2 separate regions of the Homo sapiens genome follow, and region 1 is linked to region 2. The links come from fine-mapping of genetic effects on gene expression. A gene starts in region 2. The other region holds a variant in brackets. All regions are shown on one strand. Distances are from middle to middle. Region 1 has its middle 14 kb from the start of ARRDC2. Region 2 holds the start of JUND (JunD proto-oncogene, AP-1 transcription factor subunit).

The links.
Region 1: its variant is fine-mapped to the expression of JUND in whole blood (TOPMed, PIP above 0.99).

What each region holds. Positions count from the first base shown.
Region 1 is chr19:18,020,419-18,023,316 of GRCh38, reverse strand. No RefSeq gene overlaps it. Among named protein-coding and RNA genes, the nearest start is that of ARRDC2, 14 kb to the right of the region's middle. RefSeq lists enhancers at 580-1,129, 1,604-1,653. The variant C/G (reference allele first, on the strand shown) is at 1,552.
Region 2 is chr19:18,280,631-18,283,524 of GRCh38, reverse strand. JUND (JunD proto-oncogene, AP-1 transcription factor subunit) reads left to right here and starts at 1,903. Exons shown (of 1, transcript NM_005354.6): 1 at 1,903-2,894. The coding sequence starts at 2,041. MIR3188 (microRNA 3188) reads right to left here and starts at 1,448; the gene lies at 1,364-1,448. It overlaps LOC124904652 (a long non-coding RNA gene), which reads right to left and starts at 1,433. Exons shown (of 2, transcript XR_007067154.1): 1 at 395-1,433. RefSeq lists a silencer at 1,425-2,424 and an enhancer at 1,918-2,769.

The DNA.
Region 1 (2,898 bases), 260 kb after region 2:
GTCTGTAATCCCAGCACTTTGGGAGGCTGAGGCGGGCAGCTCACTTGAGGTCAGGAGTTCAAGACCAGCGTGGCCAACATGGTGAAACCCCGTCTCTATTAAAATACAAAAATTAGCCGGGCGTGGTGGCAGGCACCTTTAATCCCAGCTACTCAGGAGGCTGAGGCAGAAGAATCACTTGAACCTGGGAGGCGGAGGATGCAGTGAGCCAAGATCGTGCCACTGCACTCTAGCCTGGGCAATAGAGTGAGACTCCATCTAAAAAAATAAATAAATAGTCACGCGCAGTGGCTCACGCCTGTAATCCCAGCACTTTGGGAGGCCAAGGCGGGTGGATCACCTGAGGTCAGGAGTTCAAGATCAGCTTGGCCAACATGGTGAAACCCCGTCTCTACTAAAAATACAAAAAATTAGGTGGGCGTGGTGGCGTGCGCCTGTAATCCCAGCTACTCAGGAGACTGAGACAGGAGAATCGCTTGAACCCGGGAGGCGGAGGTTGCAGTGAGCCAAGATTGCGCCACTGCACTCCAGCCTGGGCAACAAGAGCAAAACTCCGTCTCAATAAACAAATAAACACATTTGCAGATGCCTCTCTATGCTCCAGCCCCATGGGGCCACTGGGGTGGCTGAGGACACGCCTAGCTCCCACCTGCCTGCTGTGGTTGCACAGGCTGTTCCCTCTGCTTGAAATGCCTTTCCCTAGTTCCTCTTCATCCATCAAAGCCCCAGCTCCAATGTCCTCTCTTTCTGCAAGGCCTCTCAGGACCCTCCAGCCTTCAGCCTTCCCTCTGGTTCCACCCTGACTCCACAGGGATCTGAGGTTGTGTGAGTCCTGCTCTGATCTTCACCAGTGTCCTTGGGACTCTGATCCACTGCCATCATCATGCGTCCAAGATGGTTTTCCTTACTTCTAGGCCTTCTTCCAGGGAGTCTCCAAACTCGTAGCATGATTGGCTCAGGCAGGATCACGTGCCCAGCCCTGACCCAATCCCTGTGCCTGTGATAACAAAAGGCTCCAATTGGCCAAGTGTGGTCACATGACCACACAGGAAACCAGGAAGTGGATCTGGGTCTCAGAAAGTGGGGCAGGGAGCCGGGCACTGTGGCTCACGCCTGTAATCCCAGCACTTTGGCAGGCCGAGGTGGGCAGATCACCTGAGGTCAGGAGTTTGAGACCAGCCTGGCCAACATGGTGAAACCCCATCTCTACTAAAAATACAAAAATTACCTGGGCATAGGGACAGGCGCCGGTAATCCCAGCTACTTGGGAGGCTGAGGCAGGAGGCGGAGATTGCAGTCAGCTGAGATCATGCCACTGCATTCCAGCCTGACGGACAGAGTGAGACCCTGTCTCCAAAAAAAAAAAAAAAAAAAAGGGCAGGGCAGGTAGACATTCCTCCAGACCCCTGTGTTAAGGACTTAGGGATCCCCTTGCCTGTACCATCTTGGCTGGTGGGCCTTGGCGAAGTCACTTGTTCCCTGTGTCTCAGTTTCCCCACTTGTCAATCAGGCCCAGCAGGGTTGAAGTGTTGGAGCACAGGGGGATCCATC[C/G]CCTCTCTGATCATTCTTGGGCTGAGTCCTTTTTACCCCGCACCCACGCCCTCATCTTTTATTGTTGTTTTCTGTGGATCCTCCCAGATCGGGCCGCGCAGTCCACCCAGCCCAGCGTGGCAGGCACTGATGGCCACCGGCTGAGTCACCATTTCCTCCTGGCCCCTTGCCCGGGCCCAGTGCTTTCTGGGGACTTTCCTGAACATCAAAAACAAGGTGGGGGGTGGGGGGGTGACTCCCGGGTGAGGGAAGCTAGGGCAGACACGCGTGTGTTTGGATAGGTTTGTGCATACCCTGGCGTGGGTTCAAAGCCCATGTCTGGGCCCCACCTGTAGGATCCAGGCCATAACCGCATCCTCCTAGGAGTTGGGGTACTCCACATGTGAGCACCTGGTGAACACTCTGTGCCCGGCTGCTTGTGCCCGAGTTCACTGGCTGGTGTTTCTATGTTGCTGACAGGCTTATGTGTGTGCGTGTGTGTTTGCACGTGTGTGTGTACATCATGACTGCCCTGTGCCTGGAGCCCAGCGACAGAGAGGCCCAGCCCCTCGCTCAAAAGGTGCATCTGAACTCCAGCCGCCCCTGCCCCTCAATGCACCCAGCTCCTCGCTCAGAAAGGTGGATCTGGTGGAGATAACTCCCTGGGCCAAGGCAGGGGGGCTTGGGAAATCCTGCTGCATTAGGGTGCAGGGGTGGCGGAGGCAGGGTGAGGCAGAGGTGGGGTGGTCAGAACTGTGGATCCACATGGATGAGCCTGGGCGGGCTGAGCTTTGGGAGGAATAGATGTCAATTGTAAAAACCTTCACTAAGCCACCTACTGTGTGTTCAGGGTGCTGGGACACAGTGGGGACCTGGTGTAATAGACACCACATCAACAAACAAGTGAATATGTAACCCCAGGGACATGGGGAGGACCAGGAAATTAAATGCACTGGGGCAGCAGGAGGGGAATTTGGGGTGCCCGGGCCTAGGGACAGAGGGGACTTGCTGAGAAGGTGATGTGAGGTCTCAGATGTGCAGGCGGAGGAGGTCTTGGGGAGATCTAGGGAGACAGAGTGCCAGGTGGAAGGTATGGCTGGTGCAAAGGCCCTGAGGTGGGCACGAACTGGCAGAGGGGCTTTGGCTTCATTCAGGAAGGTCTAACCCCACAGCAGGATGGGGAGCCATCAGGAGGTTGTGCTGGTGGGGCCACCAGGACAAGCTGTCCTGTAACTGGAGCTCAGCAGGAATGCGTCCCCCTCCCACCCCCACCCCCACCCCATCTCTGGCGCTCTTTGCTTGGGACAGAATGTGCTGGGAGGAGAGGCTGGCGGTGGCCGCGCCTGGTGGCTGGAGCGGGGAGGCTGG
Region 2 (2,894 bases):
GGAGTAACGCATGCCCACTGGCCAGGCAGACAAACTGAGGCTAGAGACCACCCACACAAGCAACCTTTTGTTGCATTCACCTTTATTTTTTATTTTTTTTTGAGACTGGAGTCTCACTCTGTCTCCCAGGCTGGAGTGCAGTGGCACAATCTCAGCTCACTGCAACCTCTGCCTCCCGGGTTCAAGCGATTCTCATGTCTCAGCCTCCTGAGTAGCTGGGATTACAGGTGCACACCACCACACCCGGTTAATTTTCGTATTTTTTTTTTTTTTTGTATTTTTGTATTTCGGCCAGTCTGGTCTTGAACTGCTGACCTCAAGTGATCTGCCTGCCTCGGCCTCCCAAAGTGCTGGGATTACAGGCATGAGCCACCACACCCAGCCCCGCATTCACCTTTAATACTGAGCATCCATTCTATGCGAGGCCCTGTCAGCAGGCTCAGCATAGGCAATGTCCCTGACCTTCAGGGACTATGGTCCACTCCATCATTCTGGCAGATTCAGAGGCTACAATAAAGGAGTAAAGTCTGAGGGTGGGGCACTTCCTGAAGACACATCTTTGCACTGGGGGAAGGGAGTACCAAGCAGAGAGCATAGCACGTGCAAAGGCCCAGAGGTACGATTAGTCCTGCAACTGGGAGGCCAAGGATCAGAGAGAGTGAGGGGAAGGAGGTCAGGGAAAGGAGGGTGTGGGCTCCATTCAGACAGAGGTGGGGAGCTGGAGGGGTGCATGCAGAGGCTGTAGGTCAGATCCAGATGTCCTAAGGATCCCTTGTGAGTATTGGTGGGGTGGGTCCATCTCTCCTCCCTCACACCCCCTTCCCAGCCAGTCTTAATAGTGGCTCATTAAGCCCTAACAGCCATGATAGTGGTAACAAGCATGTAATAATTATACCCGGCATTCCTGCCTCATCAGCCCAGCCCCTGGAGTTGGGCACCCTCGCCCAGGACATCACAGCCCTGGCAGACCTGGGGTTAAAACGTGGGCGGCGGAAGGAAGGGGCTGCGCAGGGGCCTGGACTCCCAGGTTCTAGGGTTCTAAGGGTGGACAAGAGCTCAGGCCTAGTCACAGCCCGGGCCCTGCTGTGACTCCTAGCTAACTCTCGGGGGATGGTCACTCCACCTCTCTGAGCCCAGTTTCCCATCTGTAAAGGCAGGAAGTAGGACTCCTGGTTCTAGAACGCACTCAGTGAAAATGATCAGGATCCAAGCGCTTTCAGCAACTTCTGGCGACCCTCCTCTCCCCTCCCGTCTCTTCCTGAGCAATCACACGCGGGGTGGAGGGAGGGAGGGAAGGAAGGAGGGAGGGTGAGGAACGCAGACCTCCCCACACCCCCGGCGAGCCCCCGGACACAGCCCCACCAGGCCTCCAGCCCCGTATCCGCACAAAGCCTCTCCAGAAGGCGCGCTAGGGGAGGCCCTGGCGGCACAGCAGAGCAGGAGGCGCCAAGGAGTTATTTAGCCATGCGGGACCCCATCCCCCTCCAGTCCCCGGAGGCCGGCACCGCCCCCGCCCCCGCCCCCGCCCGGCCGGGGCCCCACGCGCGGACACGGGGCGGGGCCTCGGGGCGGGCGGGCGCCTGGTGGCCCGGGCCCATCACGCCACCCGGGACGTGCCTTGGCGGAGGCGGCGCCGGGGAGATCGGTCGTACACAGCGGTCCCGGGGCGGGGTGACCCGGCCCGGGCGCGCGGCCGCCCCCATGACGTCAACCCACAAGGCAGCGCGCTGTTGTGGCGTTTACCGCGCGTCGCCGGGGCAACGGCGGCCGGGCGGGCGTCGGCGGCTTGGCCCCGCCCCTCCATGCAAATGAGCGACGTCACCCGCACCCAATGGCGAACGGGGGCGGTGAGCTCATCGCGCCGAGCCGAGGCTATAAGAGGGCGCACAAGTGGCGCGGCGCAGGAGCCGCCGCCAGTGGAGGGCCGGGCGCTGCGGCCGCGGCCGGGGCGGGCGCAGGGCCGAGCGGACGGGGGGGCGCGGGCCCCCCGGGAGGCCGCGGCCACTCCCCCCCGGGCCGGCGCGGCGGGGGAGGCGGAGGATGGAAACACCCTTCTACGGCGATGAGGCGCTGAGCGGCCTGGGCGGCGGCGCCAGTGGCAGCGGCGGCAGCTTCGCGTCCCCGGGCCGCTTGTTCCCCGGGGCGCCCCCGACGGCCGCGGCCGGCAGCATGATGAAGAAGGACGCGCTGACGCTGAGCCTGAGTGAGCAGGTGGCGGCAGCGCTCAAGCCTGCGGCCGCGCCGCCTCCTACCCCCCTGCGCGCCGACGGCGCCCCCAGCGCGGCACCCCCCGACGGCCTGCTCGCCTCTCCCGACCTGGGGCTGCTGAAGCTGGCCTCCCCCGAGCTCGAGCGCCTCATCATCCAGTCCAACGGGCTGGTCACCACCACGCCGACGAGCTCACAGTTCCTCTACCCCAAGGTGGCGGCCAGCGAGGAGCAGGAGTTCGCCGAGGGCTTCGTCAAGGCCCTGGAGGATTTACACAAGCAGAACCAGCTCGGCGCGGGCGCGGCCGCTGCCGCCGCCGCCGCCGCCGCCGGGGGGCCCTCGGGCACGGCCACGGGCTCCGCGCCCCCCGGCGAGCTGGCCCCGGCGGCGGCCGCGCCCGAAGCGCCTGTCTACGCGAACCTGAGCAGCTACGCGGGCGGCGCCGGGGGCGCGGGGGGCGCCGCGACGGTCGCCTTCGCTGCCGAACCTGTGCCCTTCCCGCCGCCGCCACCCCCAGGCGCGTTGGGGCCGCCGCGCCTGGCTGCGCTCAAGGACGAGCCACAGACGGTGCCCGACGTGCCGAGCTTCGGCGAGAGCCCGCCGTTGTCGCCCATCGACATGGACACGCAGGAGCGCATCAAGGCGGAGCGCAAGCGGCTGCGCAACCGCATCGCCGCCTCCAAGTG